Regions from separate parts of the Homo sapiens genome. Here region 2 is linked to region 1. Evidence: fine-mapped expression QTL. A gene starts in region 1. The other region holds a variant in brackets. All regions are shown on one strand. Distances are between the middles of the regions. Region 1 holds the start of SFMBT1 (Scm like with four mbt domains 1). Region 2 overlaps SFMBT1 (Scm like with four mbt domains 1).

Region 1 (15,191 bases):
CTTGAAACTAGAAATCAGATCAGTGTTTGCCTATGGGTGAGGGGAGTCATTAGAAGGCTCTGTGTTGGCCAGGAGCGGTGGCTCACGCCTGTAATCCTAGCACTTTGGGAGGCCGAGGCTGGCAAATCACTTGAGATCAGGAGTTCGAGACCAGCCTGGCCAACATGGTGAAACCCCGTCTACTAAAAATACAAAAATTAGCCGGGCATTGTGGCACGTGCCTGTGATCCCAGCTACCCAGGAGGCTGAGGCAGAAGAACTGCTTGAACCTGGGAGGCGGAGGTTGCAGTGAGCCGAGATTACAACACTGCACTCCAACCTGGGTGACAGAGAGAGACTCCCTTAAAAAAAAAAAAGAAGTCTCTGTGTCTTCGTGGTGGTGGTTACATGGGCTGCACCTCTGTGAGCACTCAGAGAACTCTACACTTATATAATAGGTATATGTATATATATATATATATATATATATTTTTTTTTTTTTTTTTTTTTTTTTTTTTTTGAGACAGAGTCTTGTTCTATCGCCCAGGCTGGAGGCCAGTGGGGTGATCTTGGCTCACTGCAACCTCCATCTCCTGGGTTCAAGGGATTCTCATGGCTCAGCCTCCCGAGTAGCTGGGATTACAGGCGTGTACCACCACACCTGGCTAATTTTTGTATTTTTAGTAGAGATGAGGTTTCACAATGTTGGCCAGGCTGGTCTCAAACTCCCAACCTCATGTGATCTGCCCACCTCAGCCTCCCAAAGTGTTGGGATTATAGGCGTGAACCACCGCACACAGCCCAAAATGGGTATATTTTATTGTATGCAAATTATACCTAAAAAAAAAAAGTATTGTAAAAAAATCTTGGCCACACTCATGCCTGTAATCCTAGCACTTTGGGAGGCCAATGCGGGGCAGATCACTTGAGCTTAGGAGTTTGAGACCAGCCTAGGCAACATAGTGAGACCCCCATCTCTAAAAAAATACGAAAATTAGCCAGGCATGGTGGCACGTACCTGTAGTCTCAGCTACTTGGGAGTCTGAGGTGGAGGGATCACTAGAGCCTGGGAGATCAAGGCTGCAGTGAGCCATGATTGTGCCACTGCACTCCAGCCTGGGTGACAGAGCAAGAGCCTGTCTCACAAAAAAAGCAACAAAACAAAATAAAACAACAACAACAACAGCAAAGCGCCATCTGGGCCACATTTGACACAGGGCCTACCAGTTTGTGTCCTCTGTCCCAGTCACTGTATACATTCCTCATACAATTTTTTTTTCTTTTTCTTAGACAAGGTCTGGCTCTATTGCCCAGGCTGGAGTGCAGTGGCATCATCTCAGCTCACTGCAACCTCCACCTCCCAGGTTCAAGCCATCCTCCTACCTCAGCCTCCCAAGTAGCTGGGACTACAGGTGTGCACCACCACACCTGGCTAATTTTTGTATTCTTTGTAGAGGTGGGGTTTCACCATGTCGCCCAGGCTGGTTTCAAACTCATGAGCTCAAGTGATCCACAGAGGGAGACAGAGCGAGACTCCGTCTCAAAAAAAAAAAAAAAAAAAAAAAAGACACTCCAACCTCCAACCCAAAGAACTGCTCCCTCTTTTTTCCGGTATTGCTGAGCGTCCTTGGTCACTTATTTGGTGCCTGTGACCTCTTATTAGCGGATAAGAAGTTGAAGGTGCAAAATAATTTAAGAAAAATGCATGGCTCAATAACATAAAATTGGAACACTGTGCCCATTAATATATTTTCTCCAAGAGAAGCGGTCTTTGGGGATGAATGGGGACATAATCCTGGGCTTGTGGCACTCAAGGATAGAAAACGGGGTCAAGAGGGCCAGTGCCTGTTCTGTGGTAAGCAACTGAGGAAAAGCAAGCTAAGTGCTTTAGGAAGACAGAGAAAGAAGGGGAGCAATCTTGGGAGGCCTCCTGGAGGAGATGGCTTTGAGGTCAGGACAACTATTTCTCATCATTCTGTTGTGCTTTACAGTTTGCAAAGAATGTTTATACACATTTTGTTCTTGGATTCCTATGACCCAGCAAAGAAGCTGATTTCCTCCCCATTTTACAAAGATGAGGAAACTGAGCCCAGAGTGGTGAAGGGTCCCATAGAAGGTCTCATAGAGAAGCAGTGACTAACTCTGAACTTGACTCCAGCTGTCTGCCTCCACACCCATTGTTTTTTCCCTGACAACACAGCGTAGGTGAGAAGGACACCTGGTGGAGCAGGGTTTGCAGGAGCCAAGACATGGAGGGAAGCAGGGCAGGTGTTACAGAGAATGTGGAGTCATGGTCTGTGCTCCCGAGGCAGCAGGGCCAGCATAGTCAGTTGGACCTCAGTGAAGAATGGCATGGGGTGAGCAGTGACTCTACAGTGGGGATCACCTGATTGCTTGGGTAATTAGCCACAGGGAGTCATTATGTGACTGGCCTCATTTGGATTGACTGAAGGAAGCTGGCTGGTCAGGTCAGTGGCAATGGAGGGCCGCTGATCACTGACAGCAGGCCTGGCTGGCTTGTGGAATTTCATTCAGTTCTTCATGGGTTGAAAACAGCATGATGTCCTGGCCAAGGGTTCTGCCAGTCCCCAGGGTCCAGGCCTGGCCCTCAGGTTCTCATCCAGTACAAGGCCCCAGGTTGATGCCCACCTGCAGAAAACAGGCCTGCTTCATGGGCAGGCAAGGCCTCAGGGCATAGGGGGTTCATATAGAATGGTTGAACACTGACCCCTTGGTCAATGATGACAGAGGGTTACAACCCCTAACCCATGAAGCCAGCAGGAAGTGGAGACTAAGTTGGGAATGCCCAGGATGCCTCCTGGGTGTGCCAGCCTCTGGTCTTGGATGCTGCCAAATGACCCACTAGCCACCCTCTTGTCTTCCCACTGCCTCTTGGGGAAAGGGCTGACCTCATGGTTATGGAGACAGGCATGTCTTTGTGCTCAAGGGGACTGATGTCCATCTGTGGGATTACAGGGGGGACAGAACCCAAATAAATGACAAACAAATGCAGGTATAAATTAGAAATATCACCACTGGGGAGAGAGAGAACCTGTTCAGATGGGGTGGGCAGGGAAAGCCTCTCTGAGGAGACCATCTTGTTAAGCAGATACTGGAACAATAAGGTGTCACCTATGTAAAGGTGGGTGCAGGAAGTGGGATGGGGAGTGTGCCAGTGGGAAGGACAGTGACATACCCATGAAATGGAAAGGAGACAGGTGCAGCTAAAATACAGCAAGCAAGGCAGGTGAGTAGGACAGCTGAATGGGACAGGTGAAGGTGGGCCAGGCCAGTCTTTTTTTTTTTTTTGAGACACAGTTTCGCTCTTGTCACCCAGGCTGGTGTGCAATGGCACGATCTTGGCTCATTGCAACCTCCGCCCCCCCCGGCTTCAAGCAATTCTCCTGCCTCAGCCTCCCATGTAGCTGGGGTTACAGGCGCGCACCACCACGCCCAGCTAATTTTTTGTATTTTTAGTAGAGATGGGGTTTTGCCATGTTGGCCAGGCTGGTCTTGAACTCCTGATCTCGTGATCTGCCCACCTCAGCCTCCCAAAGTGTTGGGATTACAGGTATCAGCTACTGCGCCAGGCCAGGGCCAGTCCTTTTTTTTTTTTTTTTTGAGACGGGGGTCTCACCCTGTCGCCCAGCCTGGAGCGCAATGGCGCCATCTCAGCTCACTGCAACCTCTGCCTCCCAGGTTCAAGTGATTCTCCTGCCTCAGCCTCCCGAGTAGCTGGGATTACAGGTGTGTGCTACCACACCCGGCTAATTTTTTGTATCTTTAGTAGAGATGGGGTTTTGCCATGTTGACCAGGCTAGTCTCGAACTCCTGACCTCATGATCCGCCCACCTTGGGCTCCCAAACTTTTGGGCTTACAGGCTTGAGCCACCGCACCTGGCCCTGGTGCCTTATAGGCCAAAGTGAGGCTTTTGGACTTCTGCAAAGTGCAATAGAGAACCTTGAAAGGCTTTCAACTGGGGTGAGTCATGACCAGAAGTCAGTTTTCCATAAGTTACCCCTCGTTCCGTGCGCCTCTGGGGCTGCATCTTCGGTCAACAATCCCCAACTCGAATTTCCCAGTAGCGTGGTTGAGAAGCTGGCATGCCAGGTTTGTGGCTAAGTTTTGCTTCTCTTTAAGGATGACCTGGAAGCTCTCAGTTTGCTCTTTGTCCGTAGGGAATGTTACGGCCTGTCCTAAAGGATGTTGCAAGAGTTAAAGGAGATTCTGTCCAACTGCACATGTGCATACCCACACCCACATCTACACAGTGTCTGACACAAGTCAGATGTGCAGACAGTTTTAAACTGTTCCTTGAGTTCTCTGTTCTTCTTCCTTAGGGGTCATGAAGGTGAGCACTGGAGAAAGGCAAGAGAGTTTTACAATATTTGAATAAATTGAAAGATAGGACCGGACGTGGTGGCCAGCGCTTTGGGAGGCTGAGGCGGGTGGATCACTTGAGCCCAGGAGTTCAAGACCAGCCTGGGCAACATGGCAAAATCCTGTCTCTACAAAAGATACAAAAATTAGCTGAGCATGGTGGTGCACACCTGTAGTCCCAGCTACTCGGGGCTGAGGCGGGAGGACTGCTTGAGCCTGGGAGGTAGAGGCTGCAGTGAGCCATGATAGCACCATTGCACTGCAGCCTGGGTGACCGAGTGAGACCCTCTCTCAAAAAAAATTTTAAAAAGGCTGGGTGCGGTGGCTCACACCTGTAATCCCAGCACTTTGGGAGGCTGAGGCGGGTGGATCATAAGGTCAGGAGTTCGAGACCAGACTGACCAACATGGTGAAACCCCGTCTCTACTAAAAATACAAAAATTAGCCGGGTGTGGTAGCGTGCGCCTGTAATCCCAGCTACTGAGGAGGCTGAGGCTGGAGAATCGCTTGCACCCAGGAGGCAGAGGTTGCAGTGAGCCAAGATTGCACCACTGCACTCCAGCCTGGGTGACAGAGCGAGACTCTGTCTCAAAAAAATCATTAACAATAGCTAACATTTACAAAACTTTTACTATGTCCTAGGCGTTGAGCTTGTGAGGCAGCTGTTAATCTTTTTTTTTTTTTTTTTTTTGAGTTGGAGTCTTGCTGTCACCCAGGCTGGAGTGCAGTGGCACGATCTTGGCTCACTGCAAGCTCCGTCTCCCGGGTTCACGCCATTCTCCTGCCTCAGCCTCCCGAGTAGCTGGGACTACAAGCGCCCACCACTACACCTGGCTAATTTTTTTGTATTTTTAGTAGAGACAGAGTTTCACCATGTTAGCCAGGATGGGCTCGATCTCCTGACCTCGTAATCTGCCCACCTCGGCCTCCCAAAGTGCTGGGATTACAGGCGTGAGCCACTGCGCCAGGCCAGAGGCAGCTGTTACTCTTATCCTAATTTTACAGACCAAGACCTGAAGGCCCAGAGGGGATAGATAAGTTGCCAAGGTCACAGGGCTGGTTGTTGAACCTGGATGGTCCGTCCTCAAAGCCAGTCCTCTTAACCCTTATATGATTATCCTAGGATGTGTAGAGACACATAAACCAGTGTGGATATCAACTGATAATCTGAAAAAAGAAGACCTCATAAGGGCATGAGAGGGAATCAAGCCTTTTCATATGTTAGAACCTATTCCAAAGAACCAATATTTAGATTCATATGGTATTTGCTCAAACTGAGGTCTAAGGAAGGAAATGGAGAATTCAGAAATATATTAATCAAAATAGAAAGTCTAGCGTAAAAGTAGATTTTACTAAACAAAGGAATTTTTTTTTTTTTTGAGTTGGAGTCTCGCTTTGTCGCCCAGGCTGGAGTGCAGTGGCGCGATCTCAGCTCACTGCAAGCTCGGCCTCCCAGATTCACGCCATTCTCCTGCCTCAGCCTCCGGAGTAGCTGGGACTACAGGCGCCCGCCACCATGCCTGGCTAATTTTTTTGTATTTTTAGTAGAGACGGGGTTTCACTGTGTTAGCCAGGATGGTCTCAATCTCCTGACCTCGTGATCTACCCGTCTCGGCCTCCCAAAGTGCTGGGATTATAGGCGTGAGCCATGGCGCCCGGCCTTTTTTTTTTTTTTTGAGATGGAGTCTTGCTCTGTCACCCAGGTGGAGTGCACTGGCACAATCACGGCTCACTGCAGCCTAAAACTCCTGGCCTGAAGTGATCCTCCTGCCTCAACCTCCCAAAATGCTAGGACTACAGGTGTAAGTCACCACGTCTGGTCAATAATTATTTAATAAATGGTAACTGCAGAATTAATAACAACCGATGACAGTGGTAGTGAGTTATGTCCATATTTTACTCCAAATAAATAAGCCAAAATAAAATCGGGATAGTCATCAGAGAATGAAATATGAAATGAAATTGTACAAAACTAGCAGAAAAAAGACTATCAGATGGGCAGCAGAAAGCTCACTTTGTCAGCACTGAAGCAATTAAAACATTAGAATGACACACTGAACATTAGAATAAAACAAGAAAGAACAACAGGCTAGAAAATATTTGCATCAATGACGACAAAGAAGTAATATCTGTAACATAAAAAAATGCTTGTTCAAAGTTAGAAGAGGTTCAAGTCCCCAGAAGATGGATATGAATAGATTATTCACAGGAGAGGGAATGCATATAGTAAATGCATGGAAAAACATTCATTTTTGAATGTTGTGTCACCTAAGAAATGCTAAGTAACCTTGAACTAGCAATAGACTATTAAAGTAGGGGGGAAATGGCACTCAATGTTTATAAGTGTGTTAAACTCCTTACACTTGTTCCTTGGAGGCGGTAGAATAATTGGGGCAGCTCTTGGGAAAAATATGACGCTGTAAGCCAAGACCACTTGGCCATTCATAGCCTTCTACCTGGGAGCCTTTCCACTCCCAGGTATTTGTCCCAAGTGCAGAATTCAAGGATACGTTAGCAAACAACCGTAAAGAACCAAAAACATTAGGGGGCTGAGTGAATAGTTAAGGACACCTGCACACCTTAAAAATGAATCGTGAACAAATAAAAATGGTAGTGAAAGTAGTAACAAAAAAAGTGTGGTTGCAACTATACACAGTATATATATGTTTCATGTCGTGAAAAGTTGCATTTCTTTGTAACAATATGGATTACTGTATTCTTTTTAGATTTTTCTTTCTCCGGTTGTCATATTGTTTTTTCAGTGGTGCTAAAAAAAATCTGGATTCAAATCCAGCCAGCAGCGTGACTTTGAGCAAGTTTGTGAAGTGGGATATTTCTCAGAGCGGTTGAGGGAGGTGGCTTGAGCTCGCACCTGGCACACGGTGAGAACCCCAGACTTTCTTCTTGCTGTGGGGGCGCCTCTGGGCCCTGTCCGATAACGCCTTTCACGGCCTGGGAGTCTGATCGGGAGCTCCCGGGTCTCGGTGGCGCGGGAACTCCCTTCTGGAGGGAACTTTCCGGAGCAGGTGGGCGGGTGTATGTCCCACGGGCACCTGCGCTCAGGAGGAGGGGGCGAGCTCGGGCAACGTAACCGCCCACGGTCACCTCGGGCTGCGGGGCCGACTTGAAGCCGCCTTCGAGGTTCTGATCCTTCCCGGGGCTCTGGGCTCGTTCGTCCCAATTCGCAGCTGTCCTGTGCCCCCTCGCTGCAGGAAGACTCAAGATTTACAGGGCGCCTCCTGCGGAAGCCTAGAGACATCGGGGGCGCCGAAGGGCCCGCGCCGGACTTCGCAGACAGGGGGCACTTGGGTGCCCTTTCAGGTCTCAGAGGGAGCGCCCGATCCCCGACGAGGGGCAGGCAAACGGGCGCAGTGCCCGCGGCGGCGGCACGCGCGCATCTGGGATCCGGCCGCTTCTCCGCTCATGCCATCTTGTCCGAGCCAGTCACGTGCGGGCGACAGCGGCGCGCTTCGCCGGGCCGGTACTCCAGGTCCGACCCGCGAACCCCTCTGGGATCCCCGCCGCTCTGTCTACAACCCGAGGTGAGGCGCAGGCTGGATCGGGGCTGGGCCAGGGCGGGCACTGGGTTCCCGGGGACGCGTCTCCTCTTCCGGGCCGTTCCGCTCGGGGCCACAGCGCCGTCGGGGGCCCGAGGCGCCGCCGCGTGTCCTGCGCCACGGCCTCGGGGCCGTCCGCGCCGAGTTGCTGGCTGGGGGCGTGGGTGGCCCGCGGCGCCGGACCCCCGGCACACCAGCCCGCGGAGTCCTTGCCTCCCGCGCGGCCCCAGCCAGGAGGGATGGCGCTGGGGCGGGAGCGGGGCAGCCGGGCCCGGGAGCTCCACGGGCGCGGCGCGAGGGGCGCAGGCTGCCTGGAGGACCGCGGAGCTGGGGGTGGGGGGGCGCGGGCGCATGCGCCCTGCGTCCGTGCCATATTGGAATGAGTCGGAGCGCGGAGCGCCGCCGCCGCCTCCGCCGGAGCGCGGGTGGAGGGGGGCGGGGAGAGCTGCCGGCCGCCCCGCTCCGCCGAACCCAGCAGGAAGGAGGGCGCGAGCGGGCGAGCGCGGGCAGCACGGGAGGAAAAAGCTTCCGCGCGGGGGAGCGAAAAGACGGAAAGAAAGAAAGAAAACGAGCGCGAGAGGGGGAAAAGCGAGCGATCGAGCGAGCGCGCGCGCGAAAACTCCGGGCAGGTAAAAAAGCGGGGCCACCGGCTGGGCCTTCCCGCGCGGCGGCCTGGAGGGGCGGCGGCGGCGCCGGGGCGGGGGACCGTACGGCGTCCCCTTCGAAGCGGCCGCGCAACTTTGCCAACGGGAAACCGCCGGGCGCCGGCGGGCGCGCGGGCTGAGGCGCCAACGGGCGGCGGCGGCGGCACGTTGGGGGCGGGGGCGGGGCGGGGGGAGCGCGGCGCCCGCGCGCGGCCCCGCGGTCCCGCGCGCCGGCCGGCCGGCTGCAGGGGCGCGCCTGGGCGCCTCGCCGCGGCGGAGAGCGGCGGCGGCCGTCAGCCCCTGGCAGGCAGCGCGGCGCGCGTCAGCCCGCGGGAGGCGTGAAAGGAAAGTGGCCGGGCGGCGGCAGTGGCGGGCGCCCAAGTTCCCCGGCGCGCCGGGCCCGCCGCGCGCCCCTCCCCGCGCGCGCCCCGCGCTCCGCCCGCCGAGCCCCCGCGGACCCGCCCCCCGGGCTCGCTCCGGGCGGGGCGCGAACCCGCAGCTGGGGCCGGGCGCGCGGCCGGTCGGAACTTCGGAGGGCCCGGGCGGTCGCTGCGCGGTGGCGGAGCGTCTAGTGGCCGCCGCAACCGGTGGCTCCGGGCCGCCGTTGTGAAGTGAGCGGGCCTCTCCCGCGCCGCGGCCCGCCGGGCACCGCCGCTGGACCCCGCGCCGACCCGGCAGCGCCCCGACCTGCCGCTCGGGAGGTCCGCGACCGTTTCGATTTCTGTTCCTAAAGTCCGATTTTGGACGCTGAAAAGGAGGCTGTGGAGGGGCGAGCGGCGTCCTGGGAAGCAAGGCCTGCTCTGTGCGGAGCAGAAACGCCTTGTGCGAACAGAAATAAATTCCCGCGGAAAGGATGTACGTTATGCTAAGTTTTTCACAAGATGTCAGCTGTTCCCGTAGGGTCTAAAACTAAGCCGGCAGGCACAGGTCACCCCCAGAGCTTGTGCTCAAGGAGTGGTGGACGCTTGGGTCAGGTGGGGGTGTTCCCAGCGGGTCGCCCGAAGCAGCACTGGTTGATGGTCCCAAGTGGTGTTTTTGAGTCCTGTTAGCAGTGATCTGTGTTTGAGAACCAAGTAACCATCAAAGAGATTCGAAAGGAAGTAAGATGGATTTTGTCAATCCCTGCGTATGTCTTCTCTTGAACCACATTTTCTAAGATGTCATTCTTAATTTTATTGCATCTGGGTAAAATGCCTGAACGTGTAATCATTAATTTGTCAACTGGCGAGAGGATGAAGGAAGATGTGTCTTCATGTGTACACTTTGAGGCCTGTTGACTAGCGTTTTGAGGCATTTGTTGAATTAGGCCGTAGGTAGATTCGGAGTTAAGATTTGTTTGCGATGTCAGAAAAGTTACGGCCTGGTAGAAACGGCCAGAGATCAGGAAACAGTTCTGTTATTACCGTTGTCATTGACTAACTGCCTTATCTTGGGCACATTTCTTACCCATTGTAGCTTTGATTTTCCTTATTTGCAACATTAAGATAAACAGATGATGTTTGGGGGTGCTTTCAGTTCGAAAATTCGGTGGCTTTCTTAACTGAAAGATTCTTAGAAATCACAGTGTATATTTTGAGAGGTACTACATAAAAGTGCTCGCAATGTGTGTCTTTATTAAAATTCATTTGGAAAAAACATCTTGGTAGCTAGATCCAGAATGGTTTTATATGATTATTTGAATAGATTTTTAACAATGTATTTTTATGGAGGTATGTATAACCTACCGAAAGATCTTAAGGGTACAATTCAATGACTTTTTATATATGTATATGCCCTGATAACCACACTCAGATCAAGATATGGAACATTTTCAGGCCTTGTATCCTTTCCATTCAGTAAACACATTCCCCCTCCCCAAGGCAACCACAATTCTGACTTCTGTCACCACAGATGAGTTTTGCCTCAAAACAGGACCCTTTTGAGGGTTAAAGGGGCAATACTAACAAACTGAGGATAGCTTGTATGTAAACTTGGAGTTATGGCCGTGTTGGCCATGACCCTTTGCTTTTATAATGATTCTTAGGGTTTTTGTAATCCAGAATAACTTAAAATTCTGTCCTGAGGAACTTCTTAGAAGGTCACTTTTCAGTGGGGGCAATACTTTGCAGGTTACGATTGGTAGTTCTTGGGAGTCCTTATGTTCACAGACAATGGTATTAATCTATGACTTCCCATTTTTAGAATATAGGTACTATATATTTGTAGACAACAGATTTGAAGAATGAATCATGAATTTTCCTAACAAGTTAGAGTTTAAGGTGTCAGTAGATGAATCAGTTTCTTAATGCCTAGAATTTGCTGAGAAAATTGAATGAAAATTGGTTTCTTAAAGTTAAGTGAATTAAGAATGTGTGCGTAAAGCTTTAACAACCTTTTCAATGACAGCAGTTGACTTATATATACAGGATAGTCAGCTGGTTTATCAAATCATTTAAAGTGCAACAATGAAAGCAAAAACAAAAGGTTAACTAAAAATTATGTCAGGTGTGATTAAAAAAATCAGCATGACTAAGATACCTTTTTTTTTTTATTAACCCTCTTTCTAGGAAGGTGGACTTTTAAATATTCTCCACTGAAGCAAATGCTGCAACAATTTGCATTTCCTTCACCAATGTCGTCTTGTGCCTTTTCTTGTTCCTACTGTAAAGGAGATGGGTTAGATGTTGTAAGTGAATTCTTATTTTGTTAGTTCCTAACAAAGGCTTGTGTTTTTTACTGCAAAGATATCTGTGTGATAAAAGTTGGGAATGTTCTAAGGCCTGTGGTGTAGGGATCCATGGGGAATAGTCCACAAAGTTAAAAGGTTTTCTTTTGTGAAATGATTTCGCTGAATAATTCTGTCTTTCCCGTGTTAAGCTAGCCAGCCAACTGACTGACCAGCAACTAAGCTGGATTTGGTCACTCCACCCAAGATTCACAGCCTCATTAGCCAAGAGAGTAATTGATGACTTAGCTATTATTGATACATTGTTTCTTTTTGTGGCTCTTTTTAAATTTCTTGACTTTTATGTGATCAGATTGTTTAATTTAAAATCTATTACATTTTTAAGAGAAGCAACTAAAGAGATACACGAGAAACAAAATACACAATGAAAGGGAATTTCCTTTTTTTGCTGTTTTGTTGTAAACTCAGATTTTTCCTTTTAAAAATGATTGCTGGCTAGGCACAGTGGCTCACGCCTATAATCCCAGCACTTTGGGAGGCTAGGCAAGAGGATCGCTTGAGACCAGGAGTTCGAGGCCAGCCTGGATGAAAGAAAAGGGAGACCCTGTGTCTCCAAAAAAATAAAAAAATTAGCCAGGCGCGGTGGTGGGCACCTATAGTCCCAGCTCTTCAGGAGGCTGAGGTGGGAGGATCCTTTGAGCCCAGGAGTTCGAGGCTGCAGTGAGCTATGATTGCACTGCTGCACTCCAGCCTGGGTAACAGAGTGACACTGTCTCAAAAAACAAACCAACCAACCCAGTATGATTTGCCTATCCATAATCTTCCTGCTTCTGTAGTATACTTTTGCTTTCACAGTGATACCTAGACTGGGTTTAGCTGTGGAATGGTGGTGTAGCAGCAGGTATCATTTAACTCTAAAGTCTGTAGAAAAGATGAACTATACAAACTTCATTGGCTTTTTATTTTGGCGTCATGTTATGTTCACATTAAGTAAATAGATACAGTCCAAAAACCAAAAGGCCATTATTTAGGCAGACATTTTACATCTTTAATATTTTTAATGTTACATTTTTTCTCTTATAATTTTCCAAAATTTTGCTTTCTTGGATTATTTGGCTTATAACCAATATTTTGGAATAACATAAAATAAAAGAACTTGTAATGAGTAAATGATACAACTTCCTTATGGCAGAGTATTTTTCTTTTAGTATATAGCATTCGTTACCTAACTGGGATATTTTGTATTTGAAAATAATATTTCTGTATATACATAGTTATTAAATGGGATAAAAGTGTGTGGGGATTTTGGTTACTTGCGAGATTTTAAACCATTAGAGTTTGGGGAGTGGGATTTTGATAGGAGTCTCCCATTCTTCAGGGGATACTAACCTCATTGGAAAAGAATTTTTTTTTTTTTTTTTTTTTTTTTTTTTTTTTGAGACAGACTTTTACTCTTGTTGCCCAGGCTGGAGTGCAATGGCACGATCATGGCTCACTGCAACCTCTGCCTCCTGGGTTCAAGCAATTCTCCTGCCTCAGCCTCCCAAGTAGCTGGGATTATGGGCATGCACCACCATTCCTGGCTAATTTTGGTATTTTTAGTAAAGATGGGGTTTCACCATGTTGGTCAGGCTAGTCTTGAACTCCTGATCTCAGGTGATCCACCCTCCTTGGCCTCCCAAAGTGCTGGGATTACAGGCATGAGCCCCCGCGCCTCGCGGAAAATGATTTAAAATAGAAAGAATGTGGTCAGGTTGTTGCAGATTCATGTTTAAACTTTTCAAAAGGGGGAGGAAGGATAAGAACACTGACACATTATTAATAGAAAAATCATATGACTTCACTGCATAAGTCTTAATGATTTGATTGTAAACCTTTTCCTCTAACTCAGAGACACCTGAAAACGTGTATGTAATTATTCTTTCTTTTATTCAAGAGGATGTTTATAACCTTATTTAGTTCTCTTTTGTCTTCAGGCAGTCACTCAAGGAATTTATTTAAAAACAAAAAATAGGCCGGGCGCAGTGACTTACACCTGTAATCCCAGCATTTTGGGAGACCAAGGCAGGCAGATCTCTGGAGTCCAGGAGTTTGATACCAGCCTGGACAACATAGGGAAGCCCTGTCTCTACAAAAAAAAAAAAAAAAAAAAAAAAAAAAAAAAAAATTCAGGTGTCTTGGTGCATGCCTGTAGTCTCAGCTACTCGGGAGGCTGAGGCAGGTATATCTCTTGAGCCAGGGAGACAGACGTTGCAGTGGGCTGTGATCACACCCCTTCAGCCTGGTGACATAGCGAGACCCTGTCTCAAAAAAATAAATAAAAACAAAAAAAAAAGTAGTCTGTATATTGTGTGTTAAATGATGTGTTAAGTACCTGTTGAACTCTGTGGTTTGAACAGTTGAGTAACTTCAGTGAGCCAAGCATGTCACTATGCAGAGAGAGGCTATAAGGTGATATTTCCAACATGATGCACAGTACTGTGTGCATTGGGTCTTTTTTTTTTTTTTTAACTGGCATACTGGTCTGGTGCATTGGTTCTTTTTTGATGTTTTTGCTTAGTCTAGAGAAAGGTTAATTATTAAACTGATGTGGGGCAGATAGGGTTGTTAAGTGTCAGTATCTGTTTATCTGGGAAACTTGGGTTCTGTCTGAGATGGTATTTGGAGAGGATCTTAGATGAGAGTTGGAAGGTGGTTTGTTGGCAGTTGAAAGTGTGGGACAGTCACACATTTGGAATGACAACATGAGCTGGGATGAGAAATTTAGCAATTACTAAAATGCCTCAGGAGTTTTTCTTGCTGATATTCAATTTAAAGTGTTAGCCAACAAGTACTCAGATTTGAATTCCAAATTATTATTTTTTATACCCTGAAGAGTTTTTAAAAAAGCATTTGAGGTGGCTACTATGGAATATTTGCTCAGTAGTAAGGCTGCCCATGGGCTGCCACTGGTTCTTCATTTCTGTTCACATTAATTTGCTCCCCAGACTAGAGTGCTTTCCTGTCTCTCAGTTTTTTCTAGTGTTCTTTCTTAAGGATCGGTTCTTCTAAAATATGCTTTTTCTGTGTTAAAAATAGTATATGGTAATTTTGAATTGTAACTTTAAGATACCTTTTGGTCTCATTTTGACTTGCGTCATAAAATAACCCTCTTGGAGTGGTTAGATGGTGATCACACCAATGCACTTAGCATATTGCCTGTCTAGAACATAGTGATATATAATGAGGATATAAATTTTTATTATTAAAAATGTTTATATGTAACAAACCTGCGCATCCTGCACATGTATCCTGGAACTTAAATGAAATCAAATAAAAAAAAAGTATACCAAAATTAGCCAGGTGTGGTGGCGGACACCTGTAGTCCCAGCTGCTTGGGAAGCTGAGGCAGGAGAATTGCTTGAACCCAGGAGGTGGGGGTTGCAGTGAGCTGAGATGACATCACTGCACTCCAGCTTGGGCAACAGAGAGAGACTCTGTAAACGTATGGTTGTGGTAAGTTATATACATATAGCATGAATTGTACCATTTTAACCACTTTTACACGTACAGGTCAGTGGCATTAAGTACATTGACATTGTTGTGTAACCATTACCACCATCCATCTCTAGAACTTTTTTAATCTTCCCAGACTGGAACTCTGTACCCATGAAACAGGGATTCCCCAACTCCCCTCCTCCCACCCTAGACAACCACTGTTCTACTTTCTGTCTTTATGATTTTGACTATTCTAGGTACTTCATCTAAGTGGAATCATACAGTATTTATCCTTTTGTGATTGCCTTAATTCACTTAACATAATGTCTTTAAGGTTCATCCATGTTGTAGCATGTGTCAGAATTTTTTTTGAGGAAGTAAATTATTTGAAAGACTTCCACAGCAGGTAAAGTGGAGGTCAGGTCACAGAATACTGTTTGCTAGGATTTGTTTACCTCCCTTGGAAGAACTCCGTATGTGCCCAGCAG
Region 2 (15,191 bases), 62 kb after region 1:
GAACACCTGAGACTCAGTAACTTATGAATAATAGAAACTTATTTTCTCACTATTCTGGAGTCTGAGAAGTCCAAAATCAAGGTGCTGGCAGATTTAGTGTCTGGGGAGGTGCCATTCCTCATTGATGGTGCATCCTCATGTGGTAGAAGGTGGAAGGGAATGTGAAAGCAAGAAGGGGCAGGCAGCTCTCAGAAGCTTCTTATAATGGCATTGATCCAATCGCTTCCTGAAAGGCCACACGTCTTAATACTCTCATATTAGGGATTAACTTTCAACGTGCAGGCTGGGCGAGGTGGCTCACGCCTGTAATCACAGCACTTTGGGAGGCCGAGGTGGGCGGATCACCTGAGGTCAGTAGTTCGAGACCATCCTGGCCAACATGGTGAAACCCGTCTCTACTAAAGATACAAAAATTAGCCAGGCATGGTGGCGCCTCCCTGTAGCCCCAGCTACTCGGGAGGCTGAGGCACGATAATTGCTTGAACCCAAGAGGTGGAGGTTGCAGTGAGCTGAGATTGTGCCACTGCACTGCAGCCTATGCAATAAGAGCAAAACTCCATCTCAAAAAAAAAAAAAAAAAAAGAAGTTTCAGCATGTGAATTTTGGGTGGGACACAACATTCAAACCACAGCAGGTAGGGAAGAATTCTCTAGAAAAGCACTGTAGGGTAATGGAGAGCTGTTATTTGAGGAAATGTTGGCACATGGGAATGGTGTGTACAACAGAACTGTTGAGGACTGTTGGACTGGGTGTTACTTATTAAAGTTTTCTCTAACTTTTAGAGTCACCAGCCTCAGTTATTCAGTGAAACAAAGAGCAATTTTAAAAAATCATCCAGGCAGCTGGCTTAATGTATGTAAAAATGCAGTGCTAGGTATAGTTGCTGAAGATACTATGCAGACGTTTGCAAATGAGACAGTAATGTGGGTGTAAAGTAGTTATTTGGGAAAAAATGAGCAAACAAAAAATGTTTATATGTTGAACTTCATTACTCATCATTTGAAGTGAAAAAATTATTCTCTTTATACTTCACCCCACTTCATTAATCTCTCTCCAAAATTGCAAGGTTGACATCACCCCATAGTAGTAATGTTTGTTCATTAGGTTTATTTCCTTGTTTTATGCGTAATATCTGAATTCCCAAGGCCAAAACTCCTTAGCTTTGATAATAGTATTTGTTAAAGTTGAGAAAACTTTTCCTTCCTTCCTTCTTTCCATCCATCCTTCTTTCCTTCTTCTCTCCCTCCCTTTCCTCTCTTTCTTGCTCAACTTTTTCTTGATGTTTTCAAAATATTAAGGTGGCTCTTTGAAGTTTAACAGTCCAACAGTCTGAATTTGTTTGACGTTTTGTTAAAGATTCCGAGAAAAGTAGTATTCTGGTGTTTGAATGGCTTATTGATTTTTTTTCTTTAAAGATTGCTTTGAGATGAAATTGAAGTAAACTTAAGACTTTGCATAGTTAGATTTGACATTAAGTCTCTTCAAGCATTTGGTTTTTGTTTCCAAGTGAGGAAGGACTGAGTGTTCTGTCATCTGACTCTGTGTCACAAAATTCCAAACTTGATGTGGCTGAGCCTGTGATACTCTTCAAAATACCATTTTGGAGGAATTTAATGTGAGTTAGACAACTGAGTCGAGTTGTCTTTTATACTTTAATAGAGAATAATACTGCATTTATCTCACATCCTATAAGAGAAAACTGAGGAAAAACCTTTTAATGACTTCGGGTGTATGCTTTGAGTTATTTTTACCTTTATGATGATGTTTTTCCTGAGTGAGTGGTTGTGTTTTGACCAACTAAGCCCATTTATTTTTTGAACATTTTAAATGCAACAATTAAAATGAACAACCCCTCCCAAGAAAAATCCTAAAAGACAACTAGCCTTTGGAATATATCCGAACAGTTTTAGTAGATGGTGCTGGAAATTTTTTCCCTTTGAAGGAGACATTAGTAACCAATTGTCTGCCTTAAGCCTACCTTTTTCGTTGTTAATTTGCAAATAATGAAGTTTTAAATTCTTGTCGGCCTGTTTGGATGACTTCAGACGTCTGTTTCAATGATAGTTTTGTCCAAGGCTGAAAGAAGTTATACATTATGTAAACACTATTTTTTTCTTTTTCTTTTTTTTTTTGAGATGGAGTCTAGCTCTGTCACTAGGCTGGAGTGCAGTGGCGTGACCTTGGCTTACTGCACCCTCTGTCTCCCAGGTTCAAGCAATTCTCCCAGCCTCCCAAGTAGCTGGGACTACAGGCGCGCGCCACCATGCCCAGCTAATTTTTGTATTTTTAGTAGAGACAGCATTTCGCCGTGTTAGCCAGGCTGTTCTCTATCTCCTGACCTCGTGATCTGCCCACTTCAGCCTCCCAAAGTGTTGGTATTACAGGTGTGAGCCACCACACCTGGCCTTATTTTTTTCTTATAAAACATGAACATTAGTAGGAATAGTTTTATGGAAGGCATGTTTCTTTCTTTCTTTCTTTCTTTCTTTTTTTTTTTTTTTTGAGATGGAGTCAGGCTGGAGTGCAGTGGCACAATCTGAGCTCACTGCAAGCTCTGGCTCCCGGGTTCACACACCATTCTCCTGCCTCAGCCTCCCAAAAGGCATGTTTCTTATAACACATGAAAACATGACCATTAGTAGCATAGTATTATTAAGGATTGAAAATTATACCAATAATTTTGTACTAAGCACTGTAAAGTGGAATTGGTAAGTCCTAATCTTAGAAAACTGGCCACCTTTGTAATATTGCATTTAAGTTCACAAAATAATAATTTAGTGGTAGGAAAGAAACCAAATTATTTTTAAGGAAAGAATAGAAAAGTGGAGAAAAGAAATCAGGAAGAGGAATCTTTCTGTTTAACAGGTGTAGAGATTTAACCAAAAATTTCTATATATTTAACATTAGATACTTTTGGTTTTCAGAGAATGTTTACATATGTTAGATTGAAAGGTGTGGGGGTACTGAAATCTATAAAAACAACTATTAAGGTGTGACTAGGGTCTAATACTAACCAAACAGAAGGCTGCCAAGTGTCCTGCTGCGCTTTGGAAATAACAGGTAAGTAAGTAGACTGCTATTCTGCCAGTTAGGGTTTTGGTTTTACATCTTGCATATAAGTCTGTTTAGATTCCTAATTAATTATCATAACCTAGGCTGGTTTTTTTCCTCATGTCCATTTAACTTTTTGTGCCAAATTATTTTACAGATTTAATGTGTTACGTAGTACATCTCTAGTAGTAACCAGAGATTTACTCCTTTTTTGGAAGCACTTACTTTAAAAGCTCCTGAAGAGTTGTTTTGTGTTCTAAATAATTTATACTTTTTCTAAATAACTAATACTTGTTCCTAGTATCATTGTTGTTAAATGTTCAGCATGCCTCTTAGGTATTGGCTCAGTGTTTTGCAGCAGACATTCACCATTGTGTTTCCCCGAGGATACCCTCGCAGCAGCATTACCCTGGAGTTGGGAGGCGTTCTTGAGGGACAGGTTCTTGAGGTGTTCTTGAGGGACTGACCTGTATGGTTGCCTGTCGTGATTTTTGAGGGGTGGTAGCCTATCCAAAAGTTCTCAATATTTATAACTGATAATCTAGTTCTTATAGGGCCTTAAACTTAAAAAAAATTCCAGTGAATTAATTGTACAGCATATGTGTCTATAGTCTAGGCATCTTTAAATTCTAACATAGAGCTTTTAAAAATGCTTGTATGTTTAATGTAACAATACAAAGCAGCAAAATCCCCAGAGCATCCTCTCTTATAATCACGAGTTAAAGTTTGGTGAGTGATTGGACCTCCCAAGGGTCTCTCTAAGTCAACCACTATAACTTCCCCTCAGCTCTCTTCTGGGTTGAGGCAGAGCCTGTTACTCCGTTGGGGAAAGACTTTGTTTTTTATGCTTTCCTGATGATTCTGACATTTTTGATGATGGCTGTTTATTACACTGATTTTTTTAGCCTTTTGGCTAAATTCAGTGTTATTCCATTCTTAATTCAGTGTTATTCCATTCCATTAAAGAATTAATAAGGAAATGTGTTTTAATTTAAAAATGTGTACTGTATCCTTTCATATGAATTAATCTGTTTTAGGGCCCTACTAGAATAAGATTTTAGAAGCTTATAGATGGCAGCATCTGTCTAGGTGCCATCCAGACTCTTGGTTACTCACCATTCTAAGCAGAACAGTATGGAACTTAGAAGTTAAATGAATGAATGAATAAAACAACTTGAGCGCAGATCATCTAGGGCCATCACTCTATGGTATAAGACATACCTCACAATTATCCTTGTATTCTCTGAGCTCCAAGAAAAGCCCCAGAGCCCAGAAACACTAAGGAGCTCAGGCTTGGGATCAGATGAGGGTTCAAATGCTGCCCCTGCTGCTTCCTATCTACAGTCATGCATGGCATGATGGTGTTTCAGTCAATGGTGGCCTGTATATATGACGGTGGTCCCATACAGTTATAATGGAGATGAAAAATTCCTATGGCCTAATGATGATGTAGTAGCCATCCTAAAGTCATAGTGAGATACCTACTCGTGTTTGTTGTGGTACTGGTGTAAATAAACCTGCACTGGCAGTTGTATAAAAGCATAACACATACAGTTATGTACAGTACATAATACTTGATCATAATATATAACTGTGGTTTATTTACTGTACTTTTAAATCATTATTTTAGAGTATATGCCTTTTATTTATTAAAAAAAAATTAACTGTAAGCCAGCCTCAGACAGGTCCTTCAGGAGGTATTCCAGAAGGAGGCACTGTTATCAAGGAGATGGCAGCTCCATGCATGTTATTGCTCCCGAAGATCTTCCAGTGGGACAGGATGTGGAGGTGGAAGACAACGATATTGATGATCCTGGTCGTGTGTAGTCCTAGGCTGTTGTGTTAGTTTTTAACAAAAAGTTTTAACAAGTAAATAAAAAGTTAATAGAAAAAAGTTATAGAATAAGGATATAAAGAAAAAATATATATATTTTGAGATGGAGTCTCACTCTTTCGCCCAGACTGGAGAGCAGTGGCACGATCTCGGCTCACTGCAACCTCCACCTCCCGGGTTCAAGCGATTCTCCTGCCTCAGCCTCCTGAGTAGCTGGTATTACAGGCACTCGCCACCACACCCTGCTAATTTTTTTTTTTTTTTTGAGACAGAGTCTTGCTCTGTCACCAGGCTAAAGTGCAGTGGCGCGATCTCGGTTCACTGCAACCTCCACCTCCCAGGTTAAAGCGATTTCCCTGCCTCAACCTCCCGAGTAGCTGGGACTACAGGCACCTGCCACCATGCCTGCCCGACTAAGTTTTTTTTTTGTATTTTTAGTAGAGATGGGATTTTGCCATGTTGGCCAGGCTGGTCTCAAACTCCTGATCTCAGGTCACCTGCCCACCTCGGCTTCCCAAAGTATTGGATTACAGACGTGAGCCATGGCGCCCGACCAAAAAAATATTTTTGTACAGCTATACAGTGTTTGTATTTTAAGCTATGTGTTATTACAAGAAAGTCAAAAAAATTTTAAAAATCAAAAAGTTTATAAAGTTACAGTAAGCTAAGGTTAATTTATTATGGAAGGAAGAAAAGTATTCTTAAAACAAATTTAATGTGGCTTACATGTGCAGTGTTTAGAAAGTCTACAGTAGTATACAGTAATATCCCAGGCCTTCACATTCACTCACCACTGACTGACTCACCCAGAACAACTTCCCAGTCCTGCAAGCTCCATTCATGATAAGTGCCCTATATAAGTGTTCCATTTTTTATCTTTTTTTTTTTTTTTTTCCTGAGACGGAGTCTCACTCTGTCTCCCAGGCTGAAGTGTAGTGGCATGATCTCAGCTCACTGCAACCTCCACCTCCCAGGTTCAAGCAATTCTCCTGCCTCAGCCTCCTGAGTAGCTGGGACTACAGGCGCCCACTACCACACCGAGCTAATTTTTGTATTTTTAGTAGAGACGGGGTTTCACCATGTTGGCCAGGCTGGTCTCAAACTCTTCACCTCAAATGATCTGCCCACCTTGGCCTCCCAAAGTGCTGGGATTACAGGCGTGAGCCACCTCGCCTGGCCTCATTTTTTATCTTTTATGATATATTTTGACTACACCTTTCCTATGTTTAAATATGTTTAGATACACAAATACTTACCATTGTGTTACAGTTGCCTACAGGTTTGTAGCCTAGGGGCAATAGGCTACACCGTATAGCCTAGGTGTATAGTAGGCCGCACCATCTAGGTTTGCGTAAGTATACCCTATGATGTTCGAATAATGACAAAATTGCCAAACAACAAATTTCTCAGAACATATCCTCATTATTAAGCGATGCATGACTGTGTATGAACTGACATGTTAACTTTTCCTCATCTGTAAAATGGAATTATCATTGTATGAGTTAAGCAGAATAGGATTAAATAAAAGATTATTAAAAAATAATAAACACTTAAATATTAAGCTTACCATGTGTTGGACAGTGTTCTGTGTGCCTAATTATTTAGTATACAATACATAAAAAGTGCCAGGCACATACATAGTAGGTACTCAAATAATCTTTTCTTTTTTCTTGATAAATGGTTAACAAGCATTTGTTCTGTTGAGATGAAGTTTCTGATCTGTGACTTGACATGAGAAAGCTGAGAAACAGCAACCATGAAATTACAGAATAATTTCAAGTCTTTTCATAACTGAACATGGTCTTTTCCTATAATCTTTTTATAATACTATTGGAATTGGTATGTTTTGACAGTGCTTGTGTTGGTGAATCAAATAGCTCCTGATTTAATCAGAACAAAGACATACTGTTTCAACATGTGCTCATGTTACTGGCTCCCATAAATAAAGCATTTAATTGATGAAAATGTAATCATATTTGAACTCTGGAAGAGCTACCGTTCCAGCCTATAAGATAATATAAGGATAAAGAATGATTTTAAATGCTTTTGACATATTCTGGTACAGTGAAAGATAATTTCAAAACTGCAATTTAGTCGTCTTGGTATCTGGCAAAGAGGAGGTGCTCAATATCCTGGTACTAATCAGTAATTGCTAAGGAAGCCGGGCTGCGAAGTGGTCATACTTAGCCAACTGTGGACCAGGGATTTATAGGGTGGTCAGCCTGATATTTCCAAACTCATTATAGTATGAATCATTATAGTATGAATAGACACACACACACACACACACACACACACACACACACACACACAGTATTTAGTATAGTATTCAGTATATATTATAATAATATATATTACCTATATTCAATATAGTATTCATTATAGTATGAATTTTTAAAGATTATTTATGCCTGAGATTATTGAAAGACATACATTAAAGAAAGCTAGAAAATTTGTCATTGAAGTGCCTGTATTGGAAAGTATGTGGGTGTTGAAATTGGAATGTTAAAAAACAAGGCAGCATAAATTACTGAATTGCTATGGGGAAATGCCTTCAAGGCTGATTGGTAAACCTAGAGAACGTGAAATGTAAGATGGGATTGAAGCCAACAAGGAGGTTCCCAAGGGGCAAAAAAAAAAAGAATTGGCCCCATTCTTGCTGTCTAAAAAAGTTTTTTATGATGTTCAAATGAAGCATCGTGGGTGAAAAAAAGCTTATAAATTGGAGACACTACACAGATAGTAATTATACTTTTGTTGATTGAAAACATTTTCCTGAAAACTCCAAGAACAAACCTTTAGTGGTGAGGGAAGTAATCATATTGCCCTATTTTGCACTGAAGCTCATCATAATTTTTCTTCCTCAAACCATTCCTACTTCAGACTTCCCTTTTTCCATAAGTGGCAGTTCTATCCTTCCAGTTGCTTAAGCCAGAAACTTCAGTCAGCCCAGATACTGCTCTTTCTCTCATACACCAAATCCATCTTACATCTTCCTCCACATTTTCACTTCTCCTGTCCTAGACCTAGCCACCAACACCTTTCACTTGGATTATTCTGTGGTCTTTTTAGTTGGTCTTCCTGCTTCTGCTCTTGCTTTCTTCTCACATAGCTGCAGAGTGATCCTTTTAAAAGATAAATCAAATTATGTTCCTCCTCTGCTCAGAATCCTTCAATGGCTTCCCCAAAGCCAAAATCTTCACAGCAGCCTGCAAGTTCATATAAAATATGACTCCCTGATAGCTTCCTGAGTTCATCTCCTAGCATCTCTGCTGTGATCATTTTGTTCCAACCACTGTGGCCTCAAATACGCCACACAAGCTCCCACTTCAGAGACTTTGCTCTTTTTGTTTTTCTGCCTTGAATATTCTTCC[G/A]CACGTACCCACATGGCTCACTTCCTCATTTCCCTCTGGTGTTGTTTTGTGTTACCTCAACACTAAGGCTTTGATCACTCTGTTAAAAGTAGGACTCCCTGTCCTCCTCCCTTGTTCAGTTTTTTTCTCCTAACATTTGTTTTCATTCAACATACATATTATAGTTGACCCTTGAACAACACAGGGGTGTTGACCCCACACGCAGTTGAAGATTTGCATATAACTTTTGACTTCTCAAAAACTTTACTAATAGCCTACTGTTGACCAGAAGCCTTACCACAATAACATAAGCAGTCAATCAACACGTATTTTATATGTTATATATTACATACTGTTTTCTTACAATAGAGTAAGCTGGAGAAAAAATGTTACAAAGAAAATCATAAGGAAGAGAAAATATATTAATATTGACTCTTCACTGAGTGGAAGTGGATCATCATAAAGGTCTTCATCCTTGTCATCTTCACGTTGGGTAGGCTGAGGAGGAGTAAGAGGAGAGGTTGGTGTTGCTGTCTTAGGGTGCCACAGGTGGAAGAGGGGAGGAGGCAGAAAGGAAGGCAAGAGGGGCAGGTACACGTGGTGTAACTTTTCAGAAATAACATTATAGTTTCTGTCTGAATGTTTGCTTTTTCCTTCCTCTAAAACTGTTTCTATATGGTATCAACTCCTCTTCCACTGTTTGCTTTAGTTTCAGTGCCATATCATAGAGGGATCTTGTCATAAAAGCAGTCCTGAGTAATCCAAACCCTTCTGCCAGATTGTCAATGTTGATTTATTTTCTGGCACTGCTTCTTCTACATCTTCTTCTTTATTGGCACTGGTTTTGGAATTATTCATCTCCATCAAGTCGTCTTCTGTTAATTCCTCTGGTGTGCTATCTATTAGCTCTTGAATTTCTCCACGATCTATATCTTTTTTTTTTTTTTTTTTTTTTTTGAGATGGGAGTCTTGCTCTGTCGCCCAGGCTGGAGTGCAGTGCCGCGATCTCAGCTTACTTCAACCTCCGCCTCCTGGGTTCAAGCGATTCTCCTGCCTTAGCCTCCTGAGTAGCTGGGATTACAGGCATATGCCACCATGTCCGGCTAATTTTTGTATTTTTAATAGAGACGACGTTTCACCTTGTTGGCCAGGCCTGTCTGGAACTCCTGACCTCAAGTGATCCGCCCGCCTCAGCCTCCCAAAGTGCTGGCATTACAGGCGTGAGCCACCGCGTCCGGCCCATGATCTATATCTTAACCCTTCACCTCCGACCTTTTTGGCCGTATCTACAACCTCTTTCATGATTTTTGTGATTGGCTCTGTTGTCAATCCTGTGAAGTTATGCAGGACATCTGGACAATTTTCTCTAGCAGGAGTCTATTGTTTCAGGCTTGATGGCTTTCAGGACTTTTTCTATAACAATGGAATCTTCAATAGTGTAATCCTTCCAGACTTTCATGATGTTCTATCAGGGTTCTCTTGCATAGTGTTGACAGTCCTTTCCATAAAGGAATGTGTGTAATGAGCCTTAAAGGCCCTTATGAGCTCCTGATCTAGGGACTGAATTAGAGACATTGTGTTTGGGAGCAAGTAGACGCCCTTCACCAGTTTTGGTGTTGAACTCATGGGGTGAGTTGAACTCATGGGTGGCTTGGGGGCATTGTCAAATATCAAAAGAACTTGAAAAAGCAGACCCTTACTGGCAAGGTACTTCCTGACTTCAGGGACAAATCATTGATGGAACCAGTTCAGAAAAAGGGTTCTTTTTGTCCAGGCCTTAATGTACAACCAAAAAACTAGCAGCTGGCTTTTATCTTTTCCCTTCGAGGCGTGGGGGTTAGCGGGCTGTCCTGATTATAAACCTAACTGCACTTGCTCAAAATAGTCAAGTTAGCCTATCCTTTCCTCCCTTAAATCCGGGTACTTTCTTCTCCTTACTAATTAATGTCCTTTGTAGCACATTTTCCCCCAAAATAGAGCACTTTCATCAGCATTAAAAACCTGTTCAGGTTGGGTGCAGTGGCTCATTCTTGAAATCCCAGCATTTTGGGAGGCCAAGGTGGGAGGATTGCTTGAGCCCAGGAGTTTCAGACTAGTCTGCTCAATGTAGTGAGACCTCGTCTCTGCAGAAAAGTAAAAAAAAAAAAAAAAAAAAAATTAGCTGAGCATGGTGGCATATGCCTGTAGTCTTAGCTACTAGGGAGGTTGAGGTGAGAGGATTGCTTGAGCCTAGGAAGTGGAGGTTGCAGTGATCCGAGCTCATGCCATTGCACTCCAGCCTGGGTGACAGAACAAGACCCTGTCTCAAAAAAATTCCACAGAAACCTATTCAGGTGGAAATCCTTTCTCCTTAATGATTTTCTTAACTGGCATTGGGGAACTCATTTGCTGCCTATTGGTCAGCAGAAGCTGCTTCTCCTCCTAAAGTTTTAAAGCCAAACCACTTTCTAAAATTATCAAACCATCCTTTGCTGGCATTAAATCCTCCAGCTTTAGATCCTTCACCTTTTTTTTTTTTTTTTCTGAGATGGAATTTCGCTCTTGTTGCCCATGCTAGAGTGCAGTGGCATGATCTTGGCTCACTGCAATCTCTGCCTCCCAGGTTCAAGTGATTCTCTTGCCTCAGCCTCACGAGTAGCTGGGATTACAGGCATGTGCCACCACGCCCGGCTAATTTTGTATTTTTAGTAGAGATGGGGTTTCTCCATGTTGGTCAAGCTGGTCTCGAACTCCCCACCTCAGGTGATCCACCCGCCTCGGCCTCCCAAAGTGCTGGGATTACAGGCGTGAGCTACCGCGACCGGACTCCTTCACCTTTCTTTTGCTTTGTCATATAATGACTTTGCTTTTTCTCAAATCATATGAAAGTTTATAGGTATGCCTTTCTACAGCAGTCGTGCACCCACATAAAAGCTGCATTTTCAACATGAGATAAAAACATAATTCACACAAAATGCGAGGTTTTTGCACCTGTTGGCGTAGCTGCAGTGATGGCTTCACAAATTTCCTTTGCTTTTTTTTTTTTTTTTTTAAACAATGGTCCTTGTGCTGGATTTACTTATCTTGAAATGGAGGCAGCTGCAGCTGTAGACCTCAATCTATTGTACATATCAAGCAATCCAGCTTTTTCTTATAATGTCACCACTTCTTTCTGCTTCTTGAAAGCACGTCCAGCATCTCTAGCGGTACTTTCTATGGGTCTTACGGTGTTATTAAATACAGTACTGCACTAAGCATCATGAAAAATGTGTAAGAACCATGGGAGATCACTTTTTATTGTGATATTATTTATGCATTTTACTGGAGAGACGAATTGCCCACGTGGAGATGATTAGTGTCATACAGCATTTTACGGAGATAGTCGCAACACTTGAGCTCAAGGCAATAGCAACAGGAGATAGCTGCAAAATGATTTCATATTGCAAATGATGCAATATGTACTACACTTAATTTTGTGTAGTTATGATGTAAAACTGCATCTTTAGGTTTGTTTACATTTCTCAGGACTGGGAATGACACCATGTACAGTCTGTGTTTGTATAAGTTTTGATATTTTTTAACTTTTAATAATAGATTTGTATATAAAAGTGGTAAATGATAGACTAATAGGTACATGTATTTTATGCATTCACAACACACCTTTTTCTTAATTTTTTGATATTTTTAAGCTACATGGTTTGTCTGCAAGTTTTTTCAAATTGTCATAAATCTCCAAAAATTTTTCCAAGATAGTTATTTTTAAAAATCTGTAAGTGGACCCATGTAGTTAATGCCCATGTTGTTCAAGGCTCAGTTGTATTTATTTTATTGCTGGCTATCTACACACTTTAGATTATGAGATTCGTGAGGGCAGGTTTCAAAATATTTCTTCACCTAGAACAAATGTGGTGTGGCGATAATAAGTGCTCAGTAAATATTTATTGACAGAATTCCATGACTGTTCATAGTATCACTACTATTGATTCATGAAGCCTCCTTTAAGTAGAATAACTGCTATTCACTGTTAATATAAGTTCTGGTGAATGGCAATACTAATTTAAGCACTCTGTTACTAATGGTGGGAAGTGCCATACTGTAGTTTGCAGCTTCCTTTGTAGTTGGATGGGGTCTTGTGACCGGATTTTAATTAGTGGAATGTGGGTGGAAGGGACGTACCACTTTTAGGTCTGTCCCATGAAAACCTCCCATGTGTGATCCCCTACAGTGAATGATTTGTGAAGACTTTGTTGAAGGTGGTAGAGCTATGTGGCGGAAGGCTTTTGGCTTCATGAATAATCACATGGTGGAGAGTTGCCTACTGATTAGGAACACCTGTTTGGACTTCATCTGAGTGGGAAATACATATCTGTTGGATTAAGCAATTGAAAATAGAAATTTATCTGTTAAAGCATAACATTACCTTAACTGATACAAACCAGTAACAGCCAAATTATTTTCTTTCTCCTTCTGTTGCATATCCTAAGGGTAACCCAGATATCTTGTCTCTTTTTTTTTTGTCATTGGCTTCTGTATTTGAAATGTTATTTAAAAGCACAGTTATGTCCTTGAATATAAGTACCATTTTTATAGTTTTACTGAGATATATTTCACAGACCATAAAACTCACTTATTTAAAGTTTACAGTTTTTTTATTCACAGAATAGTACAACTCTCACCACAGTCTAATATTAGAATGTTTTAATACCCCCAAAAGCAACCCTGTACATATTAGTAGTCGTTATCCATTACCTTTTCTCTACCAGCCCTTGGCAACCACAATCTACCCACTTGTCTCTGTGAATTTGCCTCTGTGGTCATTTTATATAAATGGAAGCGTATAATATGTGGCCTTTAGTGTCTATCTTCTCATGTACAATATTTTCAAGGTTATCCTTGTTGTAGTATGTATTCGTACTTCATTTCTTTTTATGGCTGAATAATATTCCATTATATTAGATATATTACATTTTACTTAACCATTAATTGGTTGATACATTTGATTTGTTTCTATTTTTTGACTATTATAAATAATACTACGAACATTCATGAACAAGTTTATGTTTGGACATATGTTTTCAAATGTCTTGGGTATATATTGAGGAGTGAAATACTGGCCCATATGGTAACTCTATGTTTAACACTGAGGAACTGCCAGACTGTTTTCCCAGGTGGTTGCATCATTTTACATTCCCACCAACATTGCCTTTACGTTTTGTTACCCCCAGAGGAGTAGGGTCACCTGGTAAGTATAGTTCCTTAAGGGCTGTAGGTGGGGGGTACTCACAGAGGTACATGGGAGTGGCAGGCAGTGTGAAGTTGACCTCTCTCCTGCCTCTTCTCCTTCTACTTGTTCTTGCTTGCTTACTTGGCACCAACTACCCTGGCCTCCCTGCTATTCCTAGAACATAGCTCACTCTCACATGCTCTCCCTTTAGGCCCTTTCTGCTGGCTTTTCCCTCTGCCTGGCATGCTCTTTCCTTCTGTAGCTCCCTCAAGTCTTTGTCCATATGTTACCTTCTCAGTGAAACCTCCTTTCTCTCTACCCGATTTAACCACCCCACACTGTCATTCCTCCCCAGCTCTATCACTTATGACATTTAGAAAAAGTATTATACTTTCTTCCTTACACTAAAATATAAGCTTCATGAGGGCAGAGATTTTGGTCTGTTTTCTTCACTGATATATCTCTAATTTTTTTTTATTGTGCCTGACACATAATAAGTTTCCAGTAAATATTTATTGAAAGAATGAATAAATAGCTTTCCATGTCAATAAATGCATTTTTTGTCTTAAAATTTTAAATCACTGAAGTAAACATATGAGTACATTTTTATCTTAAAAAGTTTACCCAATACTGTTAAAAGAAACACTCCCTTTTGCCCTGCCCCTGAATCTCACTTTCCTGTTAATGATTTGGATGTATTCTTCCTGACCACGTTAAAGGTATCTGCACATATATATGTGTGCCTATAGAAATACGTAGTTTTGTTTTTGTTCAGTTTTATGTAGATATAGGTTATATGTATACATCTATATAAAACCACTATCCAAATCCAAAGCTTATTTCATCACCCCAGCATGAACTTTATGCTTACTAAGCTGTCTTACTCTTTTTAACTTTCATCTTGTGGATGTGCCATTATGTATTGATTGACCCTGAGGTTTCCAGTTTTTTCTTTTCTTTTTCTTTTTCCTTTTTTTTTGATACGAAGTCTCACACTGTCGCCTGGGCTGAAGTGCAGTGGTGCGCTTCACTGCAACCTCCGCCTCCTGGGTTCAAGCGATTCTTCTGCCTCAGCCTCCCGAGTAGCTGGGATTACAGGCGCCCGCCACTAGGCCTGGCTAATCTTTTTGTATTTTTAGTAGAAACTGGGTTTCACCATGTTTTTCAGGCTGGTCTCGAACTCCTGACCTCGTGATCCACCTGCCTCAGCCTCCCAAAGTGCTGGGATTACATGCGTTAGCCACCGCTCCCAGCCTCCAGTTTTTTCTTAATACAGGCATTGCTCAAGCAAACATTTTGGTTCTTGCTACTTTGTACACATGGGGATGTTTCTCTGTGTATGCCCTGAAATGAGGACAGTTTAAACTCTTTCTTTGAAATTGTTGTGCTATTTATTTGCTTGTTGTCTCAGGATATTTTTCTGAAATGTATTGGAAGTGGAACTGGTGGGTTGTAGAGAATGCAAGTTAAAATTTTGATAGAATAAAATTTCTGTCTAAAAGGGCTATATCCATTTGTGCTCCTGAACTGATAATGACGGCTTCCATTTCTGCATGTCTTCAACTATATTCAGTGTTACTAATCTTTTGTTTTTGCCAATCTGGGTGAAAAATAAAATTTTAGCTGTTGAGGTTGAATATGTTTTCATATGATTACCAGTCATTCCCTACAATTATCGTTCATATCTGACCTTTTAAAAAAATGTCCATGTTATTAGGTTTGGTCTTATTTATCTAATAGGTGCTGTTAT

Evidence for each region.
Region 2: its variant is fine-mapped to the expression of SFMBT1 in whole blood (TOPMed, PIP above 0.99). The same link has a PIP of 0.9 or more in blood mononuclear cells.

The regions. Positions count from the first base shown.
Region 1 is chr3:53,039,171-53,054,361 of GRCh38, reverse strand. SFMBT1 (Scm like with four mbt domains 1) reads left to right here and starts at 8,289. Exons shown (of 21, transcript NM_016329.4): 1 at 8,289-8,546. RefSeq lists enhancers at 6,972-7,471, 7,472-7,973 and silencers at 7,961-8,070, 8,121-8,440, 8,541-8,600, 8,961-9,250.
Region 2 is chr3:52,976,734-52,991,924 of GRCh38, reverse strand. All of the region lies in intron 1 of SFMBT1 (Scm like with four mbt domains 1), which reads left to right. Among named protein-coding and RNA genes, the nearest start is that of SFMBT1, 62 kb to the left of the region's middle. The variant G/A (reference allele first, on the strand shown) is at 8,260.